Linked DNA regions of Homo sapiens. The protein of the gene in region 1 purifies or fractionates together with the protein of each later gene. This does not show direct contact. Each region holds a gene or a part of one and is shown in the gene's direction. Other genes may lie near its edges.

Evidence for each region.
Region 2: the proteins of TCF25 (region 1) and BCKDHB purify together in Homo sapiens (affinity purification with mass spectrometry; 2 studies listed by BioGRID and IntAct, with this or other methods). This does not show direct contact.
Region 3: the proteins of TCF25 (region 1) and SHPK purify together in Homo sapiens (affinity purification with mass spectrometry; 2 studies listed by BioGRID and IntAct, with this or other methods). This does not show direct contact.

Annotation. Positions count from the first base shown.
Region 1 is NC_000016.10:89,876,562-89,883,666, forward strand, and holds part of TCF25 (ribosome quality control complex subunit TCF25), read left to right. Parts: intron 1-6,789; coding exon 6,790-6,951; intron 6,952-7,105. UniProt on the Homo sapiens protein: Component of the ribosome quality control complex (RQC), a ribosome-associated complex that mediates ubiquitination and extraction of incompletely synthesized nascent chains for proteasomal degradation.
Region 2 is NC_000006.12:80,165,637-80,172,741, forward strand, and holds part of BCKDHB (2-oxoisovalerate dehydrogenase subunit beta, mitochondrial isoform 1 precursor), read left to right. Parts: intron 1-2,041; coding exon 2,042-2,175; intron 2,176-3,238; coding exon 3,239-3,394; coding exon of another isoform or gene 3,395-3,421; exon of another isoform or gene 3,422-4,580; intron 4,581-5,645; coding exon 5,646-5,754; intron 5,755-7,105. UniProt on the Homo sapiens protein: Together with BCKDHA forms the heterotetrameric E1 subunit of the mitochondrial branched-chain alpha-ketoacid dehydrogenase (BCKD) complex.
Region 3 is NC_000017.11:3,633,173-3,641,008, reverse strand, and holds the start of SHPK (sedoheptulokinase), read left to right. Parts: upstream 1-4,758; 5' UTR 4,759-4,789; coding exon 4,790-4,957; intron 4,958-7,836. Other genes in the region: CTNS (cystinosin isoform 1 precursor), read right to left, coding at 742-802. UniProt on the Homo sapiens protein: Acts as a modulator of macrophage activation through control of glucose metabolism.

The DNA of each region.
Region 1 (7,105 bases):
GGGCAGATCACCTGAGGTCAGGAGTTCGAGAGCAGCCTGGCCAACATGGTGAAACCCCATCTCTACTAAGAATACAAAAATTGGGCCAGGCGTGGTGGCACATGCCTGTATTCCCAGCACTTTGGGAGGCCGACGTGGGCGGATCATGAGGTCAGGAGATCCAGACCATCCTGGCTAACACGGTGAAACCCCGCCTCTACTAAAGAAGTACAAAAAAATTAGCCGGGTGTGGCGGCGGGAGCCTATAGTCCCAGCTACTCAGGAGGCTGAGGCAGGAGAATGGCGTGAACCCAGGAGGCGGAGCTTGCAGTGAGCTGAGATCGTGCCACTGCACTCCAGCCTGGGCAACAGAGCGAGACTCCATCTAAAAAAAAAAAAAAAAAAAAAAAAATTGGCCAGGCATGGTGGTGGGTGCCTGTAATCCCAGCTACTTGGGAGGCTGAGGCAGGAGAATTGCTTGAACCCAGGAGGTGGAGGTTGCAATGAACTGAGATTGTGCCACCAGGCTCCAGCCCGGGCAATACAGCGAGACTCTGTCTCAAAAAAATAAATAAATAAATAAATAAATAAATCGTAATAATAATTATGGATTTGTCTATTTCTACTTTCAACCCTGTCAGTTTTTGCTGTGTGTGGGTGTGTGTGTGTTTTGGTTTTTTGGAGACAGAGTCTCGCTCTATTGCCCAGGCTGGAGTTCAATGTCACAATTATAACTCACTGTAATCTTGAACTCCTGGGCTCAAACCATCCTCCCACCTCAGCCTCCCAAGTAGGTGGAACTATAAGTGGGTGTCACCACACCTGGCTAATTTTTTCAATTTTTTTTGAAAGCCAGTGTGCTGGGATTATAGATGTGAGCTACCATGCCTGGCCTAGAATCTTTTCTGAACTGATTGGTAATGAAAATAGCAACCTATCAAAATTTGTGGGATGCAACTGAAACGATGATTAGAACTTTATCATCGTAAATTTTAAATTAGAAAAGTGTTTAAAAATCTAGAAATTTACCTGAAACTTCTACCTTAAACTAGAAAAAGAGCAAATTAAACTCAAAATGTGTCGAAGGAAGAAACTAATCAAAGAGGGGAATGCACAGAATAGAGTATGGACACGATGGAGAGAATCGGTGAGACCGAAACTTGGTTCTCTCAAAAGACGAGTTGGCAAAAACTCTAGATTGACTGATGGAGGGAAAAAGGGAAGGTCCAGGTACGTTACCATTTTCAGGGATGGGAGAGGAGTGTTCACAGGTACAGATGGTGCAGATAGTAACGGGCGATAAGGAACTTCTTGCTAATAAATTTTCCAGATTAGACAAATGGGCAAGTTCCTTTAAAGATAAAACTTATCTAAATTGACATGTGAAGAAATAAAAAAATCTGAGCCCTTTTATCTATTAAAGATACTGAATTTTTTAAAGTATAAAACATTCCAGGCTAGGGTTGGTGGCTGACACCTGTAATCCCATCACTTTGGGAGGTCAAGGCAGATCCATCACTTGAGCTCAGGTGTGTGAGACCAGCCTGGGCAATGTGGCAAAACCCCATCTCTACAAACAATACAAAAAAACTGTCCAAGTATAGTGGCACTCACCTGTGGTCACAGCTACTCGGGAGGCTGAGACGGGAGGATGGCTTGAACCCAGGAGGTCGAGGCTGCAGTGAGGTGAGATGACGCCACCGTACTCCAGCCTGGGTGACAAAGTGAGACCCTGTCTCAAAAAAAAAAAAAAGACAACCTCAGGCTGGGTGCGGTGGCTCATGCCGGTAATCCCAGCACTGTGGGAGGCCAAGGCGGGTGGACCACCTGAGGTCAGGAGTTCGAGACCAGCCTGGCCGACATGGTGAAACTCCGTCTCTATTAAAAATCACCATTTTTTTTTTTTTTTTTTTTTTTTAGGAAAAATGGACATTTTCCTCTCCCCCTAAAAAAAGATAAAACTCCTTCCTGGTTATTAACTGAAATGCTGATCGAGCTTTATCCTAAAGAAGATCAGTCGTGGACAAGAACCTTGTGAAATGTTCCCCATTTGAGACCCTAAAACTAATGAAAATCACAGCTTTTGGGTAGGTAATAAGGTGTTTTGTTTTGTTTTTTGAGACGGAGTCTTGCGCTGTCGCCCAGGCTGGAGTGCAGTGGCACCATCTCAGCTCACTGCAAGCTCTGCCTCCTGGATTCACTCCATTGTCCAGCCTCAGCCTCCTGAGTAGCTGGGACTACAGGCGCCCACCACCACGCCCGGCAAGTTTTTTTGTATTTTTAGTAGAGACGGGGTTTCACCGTGTTAGCGAGGATGGTCTTGATCTCCTGACCTCGCCATCTGCCCACCTCTGCCTCCCAAAGTGCTGGGATTACAGGCGTGAGCCACCGCGCCCAGCCAGTAATAAGGTTTGTCTGACGGTGATTGACAGCATTTTAGAGCTGATGCATGGCAGTAGAGATTGCAGCAAATCATGTGTCATCACCAAAACTTCACTGAAGAAGCAAAACTAGGCCTGTCACCCGTGCTGTCTGTGTACACAGATGGGCTTCAGAGCCTGTCACACGTGTTGTCCGTGTACACAGATGGGCTTCGGGGCCTGTCATACGTGCTGTTCGTGTACACAGACGGGCTCCTGGGCCTATCACCCGTGCTGTCCGTGTACACAGATGGGCTTCGGGGCCTGTCACACGTGTTGTCCGTGTGCACAGATGGGCTTCGGGGCCTGTCACACGTGTTGTCCGTGTACACAGACGGGCTTCAGAGCCTGTCACACGTGCTGTTCGTGTACACAGACGGGCTCCTGGGCCTGTCACACGTGCTGTCCGTGTACACAGATGGGCTTCGGAGCCTGTCACACGTGTTGTCCGTGTACACAGATGGGCTTCGGGGCCTGTCACACGTGTTGTCCGTGTACACAGATGGGCTTCGGGGCCTGTCACACGTGTTGTCCGTGTGCACAGATGGGCTTCGGGGCCTGTCACACGTGTTGTCCGTGTGCACAGATGGGCTTCGGGGCCTGTCACACGTGTTGTCCGTGTGCACAGATGGGCTTCGGGGCCTGTCACACGTGTTGTCCGTGTGCACAGATGGGCTTCGGGGCCTGTCACACGTGTTGTCCGTGTGCACAGATGGGCTTCGGGGCCTGTCACACGTGTTGTCCGTGTGCACAGATGGGCTTCGGGGCCTGTCACACGTGTTGTCCGTGTGCACAGATGGGCTTCGGGGCCTGTCACACGTGTTGTCCGTGTGCACAGATGGGCTTCGGGGCCTGTCACACGTGTTGTCCGTGTGCACAGATGGGCTTCGGGGCCTGTCACACGTGTTGTCCGTGTGCACAGATGGGCTTCGGAGCCTGTCACACGTGTTGTCCGTGTACACAGACAGGCTCCTGGGCCTATCATGTGTGCTGTCTTTGTAAACAGTCAGGATCCCAGGACTATCACGCGTGCTGTCCATGTACACAGGCAGGCTCCTGAGCCCATCACACGTGCTGTCCGTGTACACAGATGGGCTTCAGAGCCTGTCACACGTGTTGTCCATGTACACAGACAGGCTCCCGGGCCTATCATGTGTGCTGTCTGTGTACACAGGCAGGCTCCTGAGCCCATCACGCGTGCTGTCCGTGTACACAGGCTCCTTTCCATTGAAGTTCAGCTTGGCATAGAGCTTTTTATGAATTCGATTTGTCAAACACCTCAAAATAAGAATTTTTTTTCTTAGGAAGTCAGCATGAGTTAATAAAAGTAAATTGGGTGTTGGCCGGGCGCGGTGGCTCACGCCTGTAATCCCAGCACTTTGGGAGTCTGAGGCGGGCAGATCACCTGAGGTCAGGAGTTCGAGACCAGCCTGGCCAACATGATGAAACCCCATCTGTACTAAAAATACAAAAATTAGCCTGGCATGGCGGCACATGCCTGTAGTCCCAGTTACTCGGGAGGCTGAGGCAGGAGAATCACTTGAATCCGGGAGGCGGAGGTTGCAGTGAGCCAAGATCATGCGATTGCTCTCCAGCCTGGGCAACAGAGCAAGACTCCATCTCAAAAAAAGAAAAAAAAAAAAGTAAATTGGGTGTTGTGGCGTGTGCCTGTAGTCCCAGCTCCTGGGGAGGCTGAGGCAGGAGGATCCCTTGACCACAGGAATTTGAGGCCAGCCTGGGCAACACAGTGAGACCCTATCTCTAAAAACAGACAAGTAAACCAGCACCCAGCTTCACTAAGAGACATCATCATTAGTTGAATGTTGGAGATGGTGTAGATCCAATTTACCAGTGACCACCCACAGGTTAGAAACATTTCAACAATAGGCTTTGTTTCAGCTTTCTTCCTTTACTGCAGGGTGCAAGGCAGCCGGCCCATGCCTAGGCCCCAGCTTCGCCAGCAAAGGCCAGGCAGAAGGAGGCATCACCATGAGAATCACCATCATGGTGCTGCTGGGATGGGACAAACCTCGTTTTGGTGGAGTGTCAGTGTTTTCAAGTTAGGGGCTCTGTTTACATAACACGTCTATACTGCCATGGATTTTCTCAACGGGCGTAAGTTGCTCCTGACTTGTCTCAGCGGGCGTTTAAGATGCTCCTGAATCGTATCCTTGTCATGTGGGAGCCTCCATTGGAGAGAAAGCCGACTGACCGGCAAGCACAGACCTGCCCTGTGCTTTCTTCTCTTCAGCAACCGCAGCCGGGGTGTCTGTCTTCCCAGGTGCAGCCGAGTCTCAATTCTGTTTCAGAAACTATCTCAGGGCTATGGGGCTTGGAGCTGATTGTGTTTTCTGAGGTTTGTGGTTTTCAAGATGTTTTAAATTAAACAGGCAGTTTTATTTATTTTTGAACCTTAGTGCATCCGATTGGATCCATCAGAATCTCCTAGTTCATAAAGAATTGTTGATGCTGGTCTCTGTTAGCTTTTTTTTTAAAAAATTTAGAGCTAGAGTCTTGCTCTGTTGCCCACGCTGGAGTGCCGTTGTGTGATCATGGCTCACTCCAGGTTCCAGATTCCAGGACTGCTGGGCTCACGCAGTCCTCCTCAGCCGCCTGAGTAGCTGGGACTCAAGAGGTGTGTGCCACCACACCCTGCTAATTTTTTGTAGAGATGGGGTCTCACTGTATTGCCTAGGCTGGTTTCAAGCTCCTGGGCTCAGATGATCCTCCTGCCTCAGCCTCCCAAAGCGCTGGGATTATAGGCATGAGCCACCACACCCAATCTGTTAGCCTCTTTTTTTTTTGTTTTCTTGAAATGGAATCTCGCCTTATCACCCAGGCTGGAGTGCAGTGGCATAATCTTGGCTCGCTGCAACCTCTGCCTCCCGGATTCAAGCAATTCTCCTGCCTCGGCCTCCCGAGTAGCTGGGATTACAGGCACGCGCCACTGCACCTGGCCGATTTTTTTATTTTCAGTAGAGACGGGATTTCACCATGTTGGTCAGGCTGGTCTTGAATTGCTGACCTCGTGATCCACCCACCTCGGCCTCCCAAAGTGCTGGGATTACAGGGGTGCACCGCCACCGTGCCCGGTCAGCCTCTCACTAGCTGAGGAGCCAGAACTTTTCCTGTTCTTACCCTTCTCCCACTGCCTGTCTCCCCTCCAATCTGTATGTGAATGTATGTTGTGAGGTTTTATCCATTTAATATTATACTCCTAAGATTCATCCATATTGTGTGTTCAGTGGTGGTTCATTCATTCATTCATTCTCACTGCTATAAAAAGGTTCCAGACTTGGCGTGGTGGCTCACGCCTGTAACTCCAGCTCTTTGGGAGGCTGAGGCAGGAGGATCGCTTGAGGTCAGGAGCTCAAGACCAGCCTGGGCAATGTGTTGAGACCCCCATCTCTACAAAAAAATTTAAAAAATTAGCCAGGCATGGTAGCTCACGCCTGTAGTTCCAGCTACTTGGGAGGCTGAGGCAGGAGGATGCTTGAACCCAGGAGGCCAAGGCTGCAGTGAGCCAAGATCACACTGCTGCACTGCAGCCTGGATGACAGAGCGAGACTCTGTCTCAAAAAGAGAGAGAGAAGGTTTCATCGTATGAATTATTTTTATCGTATGTCATTTTGTTTTTCTATTTTGAGATGGAGTCTTGCTCTGTTGCCCAGGCTGGAGGGTAGTGGTGCGATCTTGACTCACAGCAACCTCTGCCTCCCGGGTTCAAACGATTATACCACTTCAGCCTCCCAAGTAGCTGGGATTACAGGCTCCTGCCACTGTGCCTGGCTAATTTTTGTGTTTTTAGTAGAGACAGGGTTTCGCCATGTTGGCCAGGCTGGTCTTGAACTCCTGACCTCAAGTGATCCGCCTGCATCAACCTCCCAAAGTGCTGGGATCACAGGCGCGAGCACCTCGCCTGGCCTATCATTTTCATTAGGAAAAGTTTGTAGGTTGATGGGTCCTTGGTGCCTTTTTTTCCTGCCTGCTGCTGGAGAGGAGCTGAGGCTTGAGGAGAAAGGAGGAAGAAGGAACTTTAATGCATTGGCTGAATATATATATTTAACGTTTTGTCCTGCAGATGGTCCTCTGTAAATGGAGTAAATTACAATATTTGAGGAGTCTTCCTTACCTCATCTCTGAAGGCAGAGATACCCCATAGCCTCGGGGCCCCGGCTTTCTGTAGAGCTGCTGACAAAGTCCCCCTGAGCCAGAGCTGAGTCACTGCTGTGTCCAACAGTCTCGGGTTCTTGCATCTTTCCCGTCCAGCGTCTCGCACTGACCCTGGGGGTCCCCAACGCAAGCCCGTTCACATCTCACTATTCATATCTCAGCATGAGCGTTCACACTGTAAGTAACGCCCTGGCTCTTCTCCAACCTGTTTTTCCAGATAAACATTGACGATCTTGAGGATGACCCTGTGGTGAACGGGGAGAGGTCTGGCTGTGCGCTCACAGACGCTGTGGCACCAGGGAACAAAGGAAGGGGTCAGCGTGGAAACACAGAGAGCAAGACGGATGGAGATGACACCGAGACAGTGCCCTCAGAGCAGGTGGGGGGCTGAGTGGTGAGGAGGTGGCATCAGACGGGAGAGTTCCAAGGCACCCAGCCACGTGTATCCTGTGCTGTGATTTTCCTTGGAGGTGTAATTTTCCGAGTTCCATTTTGGTTACCTGCTAGTTGCCCCCAAATTTACTTGGGAACCT
Region 2 (7,105 bases), on another chromosome or scaffold:
ATTCTGGCATGAGCTGAGAGGTGGTGAAACGTCAAGTGAGAATTGAATTATACGCTAATAAAATTGTACCTAGTGGTTCGAATGGATCGTCTAAAGGGTTTATCAAACTTCTCTAATTTGAAGGGTCTCAAACTCCAAAATCTGCCTCCTTGTTGGTGGGCACAGCTCTTTTAACTGGGAGAGATTATTTGCTGCTGGGCTTTTGGAGTGTCCTGTGGGCACAAGTGTTGGCAAGGATTTGATCAGTTTTTGCACAGATTTTGGGGCTCCTCCATGCTGTGCCCTTCTTTTAGGGATTTAGTCTCTCAATTTTCAACCACTGGTAGCCACAGACTATTTTCTGACACCTCAGATCAACCAGACTGAGTCTATTTGTTTGAATTTTAGCTGTCCTGACTCATAGACTGGGGAGTCCTTTTGCAGGACAAGGCTTATGAACGTCATGGTCATCCACTGGGCTTAATTTCTTTCAAGAGTCAAGACTCCAGTTTATGCCTACTTTTGGCCCTTCAATGCCTTTAAATAGTTGTTTGTTTTATTTTGCCCAGAGTTTATAATCATTAAATGTGGAAAGGATAGTCTGAAAAACGCAACTCTGACATTACGTTCAGAACCTCAATAAGATATTTTGTATAGTTTTTTCATTATTATTCAATTTAAAATACCACTTTCTAATTTTCATTATAGTTTCTTCTTTGAGCTGTGAGTTACTTAGCTATTTATTAAAAAAAATTTCTAGCCAGGCCCGGTAGCTCATGCCTGTAATCCCAGCACCGTGGGAGGTCGAGGCGGGTGGATCACCTGAGGTCAGGAGTTCGAGACCAGCCTGGCCAACATGGTGAAACCCCGTCTTTCCTAAAAATACAAAAATTAGCTGGGTGTAGTGGTGGGCGCCTATAATCCCAGCTACTCGGGTGGCTGAGGCAGGAGAATGGCTTGAACTCAGGAGTCAGAGGTTGCAGTGAGCTGAGATTGCGCCATTGCACTCTAGCCTGGGTGACAAGAGCAAAACTCCATCTCAAAAAAAAAAAAAATTCTAACATAAGAATTTTTTGAATGATCTTTTTATTGATTTCTAACTTAATTACACTATGGTCAGAGAATATATGTAATTTTCATCTTTTAAAATTTGTTGAGATTGGATTTGTAGTCCAGTATATGGTCAATTGATGTCAGTGTTTTCTGTTTAATTGAAAAGGATTTGTATTCTTTGCTTCTGGGTGCAGTGTCCTTTGTATGTCAGTTAGGCCATGTTTGTTGAACATGTTTAAATCATCTCTATTTTTCACACTCCCTCCTTTTTTTTGGTATGCCTTTTTTGTCAGTTATTAAGACTAGTACATTAAAAAATCATCTCCCACTATGTGGTGATTTTGTCCATTTGTCCTTTTAGTTGTGTTGCTTTTTTCCATTTATTTGGAGCCCATTGTTAGATAAGTATAGATTTAGAATTATTTATTTCTTGTGAATTGAACCCTTTAACAGTATGCGTTTTCCCTCTTTATCTCTGGTATGTTTTTTTCCTGAAAGTCTACTTTGCCTGCTATTAATATAGTGACATCAACTTTCTTTTGGTTAGGTTTTTTATTGTCTATTTTTTCCTTCTTTTTTCTTTTTTTTAACAACCTTTCTCTGTCTTTAGAGTTTGTGTTTCCTTTCAAATAGTTGGGTTTTCCTTTCTTTTAAATTAGTGTGACAGTTTTTATTTTCATTGAAACATTAGATTACTTACAATTAATACAATTATTAATTGGATTTAAATAATTCACCTTACTATTTTTTTTTAATAGAGACAGGTTTTCACTATGTTGGCCAGGTTGGTGTTGAACTCCTGGTCTCAAGTAATCCTCTTGCCTTGGCCTCCCAAACTGCTAGGATTACAGGTGTGAGCCACCGTGGCTAGCCATACTCTTTATTTTCTGTTTCCTCTACCTGTTCTATACTTCTCCATCCCATTATTAGTTTACTGAATTTTTAAATGTATTATGCATGACATTACTCTCATTTGCCACATTAACCTTTTTTTCTTTTCTATTTTAAGGAAAAGATAGAGTTTTTAATACCCCATTGTGTGAACAAGGAATTGTTGGATTTGGAATCGGAATTGCGGTCACTGGAGCTACTGCCATTGCGGAAATTCAGTTTGCAGATTATATTTTCCCTGCATTTGATCAGGTAAGTGAATGAACATTTCTAAGGTTGTTCATTCATTGAAATATTCAAGTATTGCCGCTACCCTTCCACCCACCCTTACCTGCATTCTAAACATTTTATTATCCTTTTACTAATGTATTACAATTATAATTTTGTTATGAGCATATATTTAAAGATCTAATAGAATAGTTTAAGCAGATAGATTGGGATTGGGTGAAGTGGCTCACATCTGCAATCCCAGCACTTTGGGAGGCCAGGGTGGGAGGATCACTTGAGGCCAAGAGTTCAACACCATCCTGGGCAACATAATGATAATGAGAACCCATATCTACAAAAACTACAAAAATTAGCCCAGTGTGGTGGCACATACCTGTCATCCCAGTTACTCTGGTGGCTGAGGCAGGAGGATAACTTAAACCAGGAGTCCAAGGCTACAATGAACTGTGATCGCAGCACTGCACTCCCTGGGTGACAGAATGAGACCCTTTCTCAAAAAGAAAAGAAGAGAGAAAGAAAGAAAGAGCGAGAGAGAGGGGAGAGGGAAGAAGGGAGAGGGGAGAGAGGAGAGGAGAGAGGAAGGGAAAGACAAGACCCTGTCTCAAAAAGAAAGAAGGGAAGGGAGGGAGGGAGGGAAGGAAGAAAAGGAAGAGAGGGAGGGAGGGAGGGAGGGAGGGAGTGATGGGATCCTGTCTCAAGAAAGAAAGGAAAGGAGGGAGGGAAAAGCTCATTGTGCTATGGGAAAGGAAGGAAGGAAGGGAGGGAGGGAGGAAGGAAGGAAGGGAAAGACTCATTGTGCCATGGGAAAGGAAGGAAGAAAGGAAGGAAGGAGGGAGGGAGGGAGGGAGGGACGAGACCCTGTCTTAAGAAAGAAAGGAAGGGAGGGAAAGACTTATTGTGCTATGGGAAAGAAAGGCAGGCAGGCAGGAAGGAAGGAAGGAAGAGGGGGAGGGAGGCAGGGAGGGAGGGAAAGACTCATTGTGCCTTGGGAAGGGAAGGAAGGAAGGGAGGGAGGGAGGAAGAACGGAAGGAGATTGGAAGGGAAGGACTCATTGTGCCATGCCCCGTCTTTCTTTCTGACCCTCAGATTGTTAATGAAGCTGCCAAGTATCGCTATCGCTCTGGGGATCTTTTTAACTGTGGAAGCCTCACTATCCGGTCCCCTTGGGGCTGTGTTGGTCATGGGGCTCTCTATCATTCTCAGAGTCCTGAAGCATTTTTTGCCCATTGCCCAGGAATCAAGGTATGTTCATTTATGTACTTTATTTGATTTCTATTTGATGTTTCCATTTTGATTCATTCTATTTAATATCTATGCTTATCTAGAGGAAAGAAAACAAACAGGATTCTTGGAATTTATGTGAACTTAACTGTATTTAAGAAGGGGAGGTTAGCAGTTCTTTTAAGTATGCTATCCAATGCCCAGTTTTACAGCAAGTTCTTTTTGAAGGAGGACTGGTTTTATAAACTCTGGCATTGATTAATTTTATAGACTTCAAAGAATAAGACCAAGAACATAGTTGGTTTACCTCCCCTCTCTTTCAAAGCTTTATATTTCTTTCTAACTTAAGTCTTTCTCACTTAACTGATGATGGGGTGATTTTAATAAATCTTTTGTTTAGTCTGTATTTACCTCAAAGTCACAGGGATAACACTTTTGCTTTTAATGTATTTCTTACTTGTTAAAAAGACTAAGAGAAGACTGTTACCTAGATTTTTTTTTTCTGTTTAAAGTTAGGTAATACTTGCTCAACCAATTAATTTTGAAGCATCTCCTTTTTATAACCTGTCTTTCACAAAAGCTTAGGTCTTTTGATGGTAAAAATATTTTGAGTTTTTTATGTCTTAATTTTTTGTATTATCTTTTCTGTTTCTGTTTACTGAATAAGCTTTTCAGGGGATCATTGTAGAAACCCATAGATGTGTGAATCCAGAGATGTATATTTGTTTTTTGACCACATGAATTGATTGTGAGCATGTGTCTATGTTTTATTCTTTTTTTCTTATTTGTTTTTTCTACCAGATCAAAGTTATAAGCTTATCTTAGTTGAGTAGATGTTGCCTGATTTTTGAATGTGAGCTAGAAGTTGTAGACTGGGAAAGAAGCCATGTGCGAGGCAAGTTATTTTTGTGCTTGAGCTAAACATTAATTCACATTTAATATTTATAACATTATATTGTTTTTAAGAACAGATCTTTTCTGTCTGTCCCCTGCCTTCTCTTTTCCTCCTTCATTTTCTTTCTTCCTCTTCCTTTTTCCTTTTTTTTTCAGCTGAAATGAAAATATACTTAAAGTACAAAAGGCTAATATGAAGAAAGCAGATGAAGGGAACTTAAAAAGTAGGAACATAAGATAAAGACATTGTGTGATATGGTTATTAATGTGTTCAGAGGTCCAGAACAGAAAATAAAATTTTTTATACAGAAAATAGTGACATTTTTGCTGCTCTTTTATTTTTAAAATAAAACCCTTCAATAAAAATGGCATAAAAATGGCTTTGAAAGCCAAATATAGTTTGCCTCAGGGAATCTTAAGTCTTTGTGGTAAGTTCAGGTTTATTTTAATAACTCTTCCTATATAATATTTGTCTTTAAACAATTATAATCATTTAAAATTAGACAAAGTTTGTGATTTAAGTCAACATTAGATAGAAGTTAAGAGCTTGAGCTTTGGTATCAGTGGGAATTGGGTGAGACTCTTTGATCAAGCAAGTCGTGTGACCTTAGGCAAGCTACTTGTTCTCTCTAAACCTCAGTGTCTATTTCTAAAATGAGGAACATTATAATAGCTACCTAGTGGGGTTGCTATGAACAGATGAATTAATTCACAGAGTGCTTGGCCAAGTTTACACGTGTACTTCCTACTGTCATTATCATCTTCCTTGTCATCACCCTCATTCTCGAGAAGGTCCTGGAGCCCTTTCCTGTGAGTGGAAGTGTGGACTATCCACACTTTTGTTTTTGCTTTGCTATATAACTGGACACTATGGTGCCTGGACTGTAAAACTCAGTGGACTAATTTTTCACTTATGAAATGAAGACCATATTTTTTTTCATGGGAAAAGAAGATTTTGACATGTTAAAACTGGAGAAGAGAGTTGCATGTACTTTGAAAGTAGAAACAGATTATTAGTAGAAGAGATTTCTTCATAGATAAACACAGGTAGATATTAACAATATTACAGTTTTTTGCTTTGATGAATGATCTTTGCATATTCTTTTTATTTTTTTTATATAGGCAAGTTTAGCTTCTTAAGAGTAGTATCTTAGTTAACAGAACATGGTAGACATCTGATAAATATCTGTTGAATAAGAGGCATTTTTATTTTTATATAATATGTAAACTTAATAAGTGATAATTAGGCTTAAAATAAATAGCCAATATCTATTTTTAATTAGTAACAATTGATTATTTAAATATCAGCCCTTCTTAGCAGCGAGTTTACTGGGATATATTTTTACTAAAATTGTCTTAAAAAAATCTGTTTTTGCAGGTGGTTATACCCAGAAGCCCTTTCCAGGCCAAAGGACTTCTTTTGTCATGCATAGAGGATAAAAATCCTTGTATATTTTTTGAACCTAAAATACTTTACAGGGCAGCAGGTAAAGATTTTCTTTATTTTATATTTGTGAATATCTTTATATACTTTGTTTTTTATAGCTCTAAAAGTTATATCTTTTTTTTCTATATGGTTGATTTATATTTTCCTTGTAGAAAGAATCTTGATTTTTTTGGTATTTAGTTTGTCCTCAGGTGTAAATTTTATGTTTGGGAAAAATTCATCTAGCCATTTTATATTTTGATTGTGGAAACAAAGAGGAAATCTGAAGTGGTAGCAACAATAAAGGGACTATGTTTAACCACATAGTAGGTGCTTAGTAAATATGGATTGAACAGAAAAGTAAATGAGCTCATTTTACTAAATAGTATATGTTTCCTTTTAACTAAAGTGACCATAAAGGTCTTCCTTCATTTAAATCAGGATACCTTTGACTGTGAAGGAGGTGCTGTTAACAATTATGCTGTGCTGTCAGGTCTATGCTGGGATGACTGTGTAAAGCAAACTAAGGTGTTTGGTCATCCTCTTTTTAGCTCAAAATCCTGATTTTATAAACATACATCTGTGACTGCTAATTTCTTCACTGTAATGGAAATTTTAAATAGCAAATGATTTTTTTCTGTCTAAAGCATTTTAATCACTCCTGGAAGCTTCTTCCTCACTCTTCACAATGGATCCATTCTCCCTATGCCAAAAACAGCCACTTTCTGATTGCCATCAGATTAGGTGTACATGTGTTTGGGCTTCATATAAATCCATGCACACTGCATATGTTCTTTTGTGTTTGCTTTCTTTTACTCAACCTAATGCTTTTGAGATTCATTCATGTTTTTGCTTGTATCAGTAGTTTATTCACTTTTCTTTGCTGAGTAGTAGTCCATTGTATGAATATCTGTTGTTCATTTCTATTACAATAATATTACAATTTTGTACAATATTAGAACATTTCTACTTAGTAAGGAACATGGTCATTATATTGGATGAATATTCACTGTTCATTTCTATTACAATAATATCTTACAACTGTACAATATTAGAACATTACTACTAAATAATGAACATTGTCATTACATCATACGAATATTCATTGTTCATTGATAGTATTATTACTACTAAGTAATAATAATTTTTCTTGTTATTCTTATTTTTCTAAGTATTCTAGTTACTAAGGAAAGTAGCTTGGCCCTCTTCATCAAGGTAATTTTTTGTGAATAGTATTAGCATATTGCAACTATGTTTCTGGAGCCAGCCTGCCAATAAATGCTTCTTGGCTGTGGGGAAAAGAACACCCAAAAATCTGAGGCGTGTACAGTATTGTTTAATAAGTAGCATTTCATTGTATGAATAGATCACAATTAATTCATGGCCCATGCAACTGGGCTTCTGTTTCAATG
Region 3 (7,836 bases), on another chromosome or scaffold:
GGGTGGCTACCTCTTCTGCTTCCCCAGTGTTTCCCAGGACCCAAGACTCTCTCTGTGAGGTCCACAGGGCAGAGGCATAAGCCATTCTTCTTTTTTTTCTTTTAAAGTCAGGGTCTCAACTCTGTTGCCCAGGCCGGAGTGCAGTAGTGTGATCATAACTCACTGTAGCCTTGACTTCCTGGGCTCAGGCAATCTTCCTGCCTCAGCCTCCCAAGTAGCTAGGACTATAGGCACGAGCCACTGCATATGGCTAATTTTTAAAAATTATTTTTTAGTAGACATGGGGTTTCACTACGTTGCCCAGGTTGGTCTCAAACTCCTGGCCTCAAGAGATCTTCCTGCCTTGGCCTCCCAAAGCTCTGGAATTATAGGCGTGAGCCACTGCTCCAGCCTGAGCCAGTCTTTAAGATATTATCCCAGGTTGTTGGAGCTCTACCGTTTGACTTTGAGAATCAGCTGCATAGTCTGACCTTAAGAACCAGCTGTTCACTTTGGTACAGAAAGGTACAGAGATACCAGGGCAGAAGGCCAATTATATGTGGAACTATCTGGCTCTTTGCAGAACACCTGGATCCCAGACCTGGGTCTGCTCCACCACCCCAGTGGCCACATGGCCAAGAGGCAGACAGAGACATGTGGTCTGAATGATTCTAAACCCTTGGCAACAAACAGATCAGATTACTCCTTCCTCTAGCCACCATTTCCCTCTTTACAAAGTTGACGTGTCATTTCTAAACTTACCACATTTCTCTACGAGCTTCAGGGGAAAAAGGATAAAAATAGTCAGCCAATTCCTTATCATGTTTCTCGATTTCTCAGAACTAGGAAGAAAAACAGCAAGAGAGAAGTTCAGGGGAATGTTGAATCAGCTCAGCTCCCTGTAGACAATCTGCCCTCTGGAGCATGGATGGCTCATAAAGGACTGCCACCTGACAGCTGTGACCTCAGGGCTTTGCATCACGGCCTCAGAGGGACACCCTAGAGAGGACTTATCTTTCTTTGATATACAGGGGAAACGGGCTCCGAGCAGATAAATGGGTTGTGTAAAGTGCCCCCCTGAGGAAGTGAACAAAGACCAGAATTTTTCCCTCTTCAATTGCTTTTTGTAAAAACTTAGTTAGCAGAAAGAAAGAATGCAATTTTACTGGCTTGAGATTCTTTTTCTCCAAAAGTTGTTAAAACTGTGGTCAGATATTTGACATTGTGAACCTATAAACCTCAAGGAAATTAATTTCCTTTCCTGTCCTGGGATAAGAGTCTAAGGGCTGATGACACCAACTGACCCTTAAGACTTAAAAAAACATTTTTTTTTAATATACATATTTAAATTTTTTTTTTTTTGAGACAGAGTCTTGCTCTGTTGCCCAGGCTGGAGTGCAGTGGTGCGAACTCTGTTCACTGAAACCTCCACCCCCTGGGTTCAAGCAATTCTTGTGCCTCAGCCTCCTGAGTAGCTGGGATTACAGGTGCCCCCCACCATGCCCGGCTAACTTTTGTATTTTTAGTAGAGATGGGGTTTCACCATGTTGGCCAGCCTGGTCTCAAACTCCTGACCTCGAGTGATCCGCCCGCCTCAGCCTCCCAAAGTGCTGGGGTTACAGGTAGGAGCCACCGCGCCTGTCAAGACTTTATTTGACAAGTGTCACCATTCCAGGACTGGCTGGGGTCATTCACAAGGAGGACTCGGGGAGGGATGAGCCCCAGAGCAAGTCCTTGGTTTAGTGTGGAAGATGGGGAGCTGCATTCCTGTAAACCCAAGACACAGCAGGTGAACAGTGGGTCAAGAGCAGCCAGGCCGGCATGGATTTCTGTAGCTTGGTCTCCGTGCTGCCTCAGTACACAGTCTCACGGGCCTCCTGCAGACTGTGGGGAGCTCTGGGTAAGGTCTGTGTGGAGACATCCCTGTTCCCACTCTGATTTCAGTTTCCCCAAGGCCTCCAGCATCTCCGGACATCTCCCTTACACACTCCTCAAGAAGTCTCCCTGGCTGCTCCAGCTGTCTGACCTCTGTTGGCCCGTCTCCTCCAGGGTTCTCTCTTTGCCTGCTGCAGGTCTGCCTCATCTGAGACCCTTCTCACCGGCCGGGAATGACCCCGTACCTACTCTCTGGCCTCCTCTGGGGGCCTTGCTCTTGGCGCTGGATCCCTGTGCTCTGTCCCCTGACCTTGGAGGAATTGCCCTCCTGCGTGTATGGAATGACCACAGGCCTCCCTCTCACTCTTGCTGCCCTCCGCTCCTCACACCTGCCCTGTGGCCTCAAGTTCAGGATTCAGTTTGTTGCCCAGGACAGAGTCTGGTTTTTCTCCAGAAATTAGATGCAGAATCAGGCCTAACCAGCTTCTCAAACTCACAGACTTGGTCAGCAAACATTCCCAAGCCTCAAAGGCTGAGACCCCTGGAGGAACGATGCCAGCAGAGACAAAACGACATTGAGAGGTAAGTCAATTAAAATGTTAAAAAACATCAGATTAGGCTGAGCGCAGTGGCTCGTGTGTGTAATTCCAGCACTTTGGGAGGCCGAGGCAGTTGGATCACTTGAAGTCAGGAGTTCGAGACCAGCCTGGCCAACATGGTGAATCCCCGTCTCTACTAAAAATACAAAAATTAGCCAGGCGTGGTGGCATGTGCCTGTAGTCCCAGCTACTCAGGAGGCTGAGGCAGGAGAATCGCTTGAACCCGGGAGGTGGAGGTTGCAGTGAGCCGAGATTGCACCATTGCACTCCAGCCTGAGTGATAAGAGTGAAACTCCGTCTCAAATTAAAAAAAAAAAACAAAAAAAAAACCAGATTGATAATTACATACAACTAGTGGCTTGTGAAAGCTACAAGATAGAAATGAAGTATCTCCTGACAATGGGCTCTGTCTGGCGTGCCCTTCCTATGTAAGTTCTAACTATTGTCCAGGCCTCATTCAGATGTCACATGTTTCAAGAAGGCTCCTCACCCATTCAGTCCCTTCCCAGGAGCAACCTGGGGCTAGGGGTCTAGTGTGGCAGCTCCTGTCTGCCAGGTATGAGTTGGTCCTGTCCTCTGTTCTACGACCTGGAACTCCCTGGGTCTCCTGCTTTTGGAGAGGGTACACAAATAGTGGCAAGGGCTGTGTGCACTGGAGACAGGCTTGACCTATTTATTACTTATGCGACCTTGTGGTGCCAAACAAGGAGGTGGTAACTACCTCACAGGACTTAAATGAGGAGATGTAAAGCACGCATTGTCAAGTGGGACTAAAATTGGCTGGGGGTAGGCTGGGCGCGGTGGCTCACGCCTGTCATCCCAGCACTTTGGGAGGCCGAGGTGAGCGCATCACCTGAGGTCAGGAGTTCGAGACCAGCCTGGCCAACATGGTGAATCCCCATCTCTACTAAAAATACAAAAATTAGCTGGGCATGGTGGCTCAGGCCTGTAGTCCCAGCTACTCGGAAGGCTGAGGTAGGAGAATCGCTTGAACCCCGGAGGCGGAGGTTGCAGTGAGCCGAGATCGCGCCACTGCACTCCAGCCTGGGTGACAGAGGCTGCAGACTCCATCTCAAAAAAAAAAAAAAAATTGGCTTGGGGTGGTAGTGAAGAAATCTAGCTATTACAATGGTTTGTGGCCACAGAAACAAATACACAGCGTACTAGTGGTATTAAATTTTATGGGAAGGGGGTAGGTAGGAATAACGAGGTTGAGAAACAAGGATATAAAGTGGTTACCTCTGTTGCTTAGGGCGCCTAGCGAGCTCTCACAAAACACAGTAATCCTCAATGTTACTGGAAGAGGCAGAGCTCAGGAGTCCTCCCTTCGCCCAGTGTGAAAACCCGGAGGGGAGGATGGGGTCTCGTGCTGCTCAGTCCCCCGGAGCCCCGCACTCCGCACGTCAACCGGCGCTCTCGCAAAGGTTCTCTCAGCGTCTCCAAAGCAATCTGCAAATTCCCCAACCGAGACCCAGGCGGCAACTGAGCAGAAGGTAAGGGGCTGGGAACGGCACCCACCCCGGCAGCCCGCTGCCCCTGCCTCGGCTGACCACCGCTCGGGCCCTTCCACCCGGGGGTTGTCCCGTGTCGCGAGGCCAGCACTGGTGGCGGGGAAAGGAGCCCGCCGCGGCTGAGGGCGCTGGACCCCCGGCAGGCTGCCCCGCTGACCTGCTGTGCCTCAAGGGGTCCGCCTGGGAAACAGGGGAGGCCGCGTCCGCTCTCACCTGAGCGCCCCCAGGCTCGAGGAACCGCCCTCACGGGACGCATGAGCCTCGCCAGGTGCCGGTCAGGAATGCACCGCGTTCCCCTGCCCGGCTAGACTTTGGGAGAGGCGGGTCCGCTGTCACCTGACCTCCGCCACCTGACTCGTGGGGCCGGATCTCGGCGAGATGAGCTCTGGGAGTTGTAGTTTCCGCGCGTCTTAGACGGACAGAGCGCAGCTGGGTCGGGCCGGGGCGCAGAGATCGGGGCTCCGGCGTGAGGGAAGATGAGGTCCGCTGCCAGGGACACAGAGACTCTTGGAGCCGCCAGCGCCTCCCGGCTCCTTTCGTGAGCGAAGCTCAGACCGCCCTCCATTGGGCGGAAATCAGAGCCCGTGGGGCGGGGCCCCCTTTAGGTCCCGCCTTCCGCCGCCTCTCCGCCTATAGCCGGGGCCCGCCGAGAGGTTGCGTGGAAGCTCGCCTTCCCCGGCCAGTGGGAAGACGAGAAGCCTCCATGTTGGGTGTGGCTGAAAGATTGGCAGGCGACTCCCCGCCCCTGCCCCGCCCCCCTGGGCGAAGAGCGCGGACTTGTGGGGCCGCTGGCTGCAGACTGGAGCTGCGCGGGTCAGGGAGATAATGGCTGCGCGGCCGATCACCCTCGGCATTGACCTGGGCACCACATCTGTGAAGGCAGCTCTGCTGAGGGCCGCGCCCGACGACCCATCCGGGTTCGCAGTGCTGGCGAGCTGTGCCCGTGCTGCGCGGGCAGAGGCGGCGGTCGAGAGCGCGGTGGCCGGGCCCCAGGTGAGTTGGACCCCCGGGGCCGCGCCGCCTCCAGGAGCCTCCTGACCACCCTTTTCCACCCCAGGAGGCCTCCCTGACAGCCCTTCCCGCAATGAAGTCTCTATTCCAGCTTGTCCCCAGCTTCTCCAGGGGCCCGTCTGCCTGCAGCAGCTGTGCTCATGATCCCTTAGGTCTGGTCCCAGAATCCTTCCCACCTGCTGGGACCGATTCCCCCCCGCCCCCTCCCCGACTCTCTGGCTTCTTCTGGGGGCCTTGCGCTTGGCGCTGGATCCCTGTGCTCTCTGTCCCCTGACCTTGGAGGAACTGATCTCTTGTGTGTATGGAATGACCACAGGCCTCCCTTTCACTCTTGCTGCTCTCCGCTCCTCACACCTGCCCTGTGACCTCAAGTTCAGGATTCAGTTTGTTGCCCAGGGCAGAGTCTGGGTTTTCCTCCGGAAATCAGATGTCAAATCAGGCCTAACTGGCTCCTGGCTCATTCCACAGAAGCAGAATGCGGACCAAGAAACCTTTGGTCAGCCGGGCGCGGTGGCTCACGCCTGTAATCCCAGCGCTTTGGGAGGCCGAGGCGGGCGGATCACGAGGTCAGGAGATCGAGACCATCCTGGCTAACACGGTGAAACCCCGTCTGTACTAAAAATACAAAAAATTAGCGGGGCGTGGTGGCGGGCGCCTGTAGTCCCAGCTACTCGGGAGGCTGAGGCAGGAGAATGGCGCGAACCCGGGAGGCGGAGCTTGCAGTGAGTCGAGATCGCTCCGTTGCACTCCAGCCTGGGTGACAGAGCGAGACTCCTTCCCTTCCTTCCCTTCCTTCCTTCCTTCCTTCCTTCCTTCCTTCCTTCCTTCCTTCCTTCCTTCATTCTTTCCTTTCTTTCTCTTTCTTACCAAGTCTCGCTCTGTTGCCCAGGCTGGAGTACAGTGGCGTGATCTGGGCTCACTGCAACCTCCGCCAACTGGATTCAAGTGATTCTCCTGCTTCAGCCTCCCGAGTAGCTGGGACTACAGGTGTGAGCCACCGCGCCCGGCTACTTTTTGTATTTTTAGTAGAGACAGGGTTTCGCCATGTTCGCCAGACTGGTCTTGAACTCCTGACCTCAAGTGATCTGCCCACTTCAGCCTCCCAAAGTGCTAGGATTACAGTTGTGAGTCACTGCGCCTGGCCCAGCTTTGTTTTTCACAAGCTCTTGCCACATACATGGACACGGTTGTTTAGGGTTCAGAGCCCATTTGGCTCAGAAGCATTTCTGAGGATAGGGATTTCAGGAGCACTTTGTATCTACATAGAAGCTTTCAAGATTAGTTTGGTTGGGACATTAGGGCATATTAAAAGGATTCTTACTTAAAGGACTATGAATTGGAGGCAAAGTTGGCTCTGACCCTGGTGGGGTGAGCAGGAGAGCTGGCATTAGGGGAGAGTAGGCTCAGAAAGTGCCAGTTTCTCCTGAAATAGAGCACTTCTTTTTTTTTTTTTTTTTTTTTTGAGACAGGGTCTCGCTCTGTCACCCAGGCTGGAGTGCAGTGGTGCAATCTCTGCTCACTGAAACCTCTGCCTCCCGGGTTCAAGTGATTTTCGTGCCTCAGTTTCCCGAGTAGCTGGGATTACAGGTGTGCGCCACCATGCTTGGAGAATTTTTTTGTATTTTTGGTAGAGATGGGGTTTCACCATGTTGGCAAGGCTGGTCTCAAACTCCTGACCTCAACTGATCTGCCTGCCTCGGTTTCCCAAAGTGCTGGGATTACAGGTGTGAGCCACCGCACCCAGCATGGCCACTTTTTTTTTTTTTTTAATTGATCACTCTTGGGTGTTTCTCGCAGAGGGGGATTTGGCAGGGTCATAGGACAATAGTGGAGGGAAGGACAGCAGATAAACAAGTGAACAAAGGTCTCTGGTTTTCCTAGGCAGAGGACCCTGCGGCCTTCCGCAGTGTTTGTGTCCCTGGGTACTTGAGATTAGGGAGTGGTGATGACTCTTAACGGGCATGCTGCCTTCAAGCATCTGTTTAACAAAGCACATCTTGCACCGCCCTTAATCCATTTAACCCTGAGTGGACACAGCACATGTTTGAGAGAGCACAGGGTTGGGGGTAAGGTCACAGATCAACAGGATCCCAAGGCAGAAGAATTTTTCTTAGTACGGAACAAAATGAAAAGTCTCCCATGTCTACTTCTTTCTACACAGACACAGCAACCATCCGATTTCTCAATCTTTTCCCCACCTTTCCCCCTTTTCTATTCCACAAAACCGCCATTGTCATCATGGCCCATTCTCAATGAGCTGTTGGGTACACTACCCAGACGGGGTGGTGGCCGGGCAGAGGGGCTCCTCACTTCCCAGTAGGGGCGGCAGCACGGCCACTTCTTGAAAACTTTTCTGCCCTCCCTCCCCAGCTTTCAGCAGGCTGTTCTGTGCTTACAGGCTCACCCAGTGTGTCACACCTATTTAATGAAGTGCTTAGCGGAGGCCAGTCATTAACCCCCCCACACCACATATGAATCGTGCTCTGGGACAAACAGCACTGCTGTGAGTTAGTCTATATAGCAGGGTTTCTCAACCTTGGTGCTGCTGACATTTTGGGCTGCATAGTTTTTGTTGTGTGAGGGGTGTCCTGCATGTTGTAGAATGTTTAGCAACATCTCTGGCCCACTAGATGCCAGCCACGCTTGCCCCTCTTCCCCAGATGTGACAACCAAAAATGTCTCCATGTTGCCAAATGTTCCCTAGGTGACAAGACCACCCCGAGTAGGAACCAGTGATCTATAGTCATATCTGTGGCCGGGCGCGGTGGCTCTTGCCTGTAATCCCAGCACTTTGGGAGGCGGAGGTGGGTGGATCACTTGAGGTCAGGAGTTCGAGACCAGCCTGGCCAACATGGTGAAAC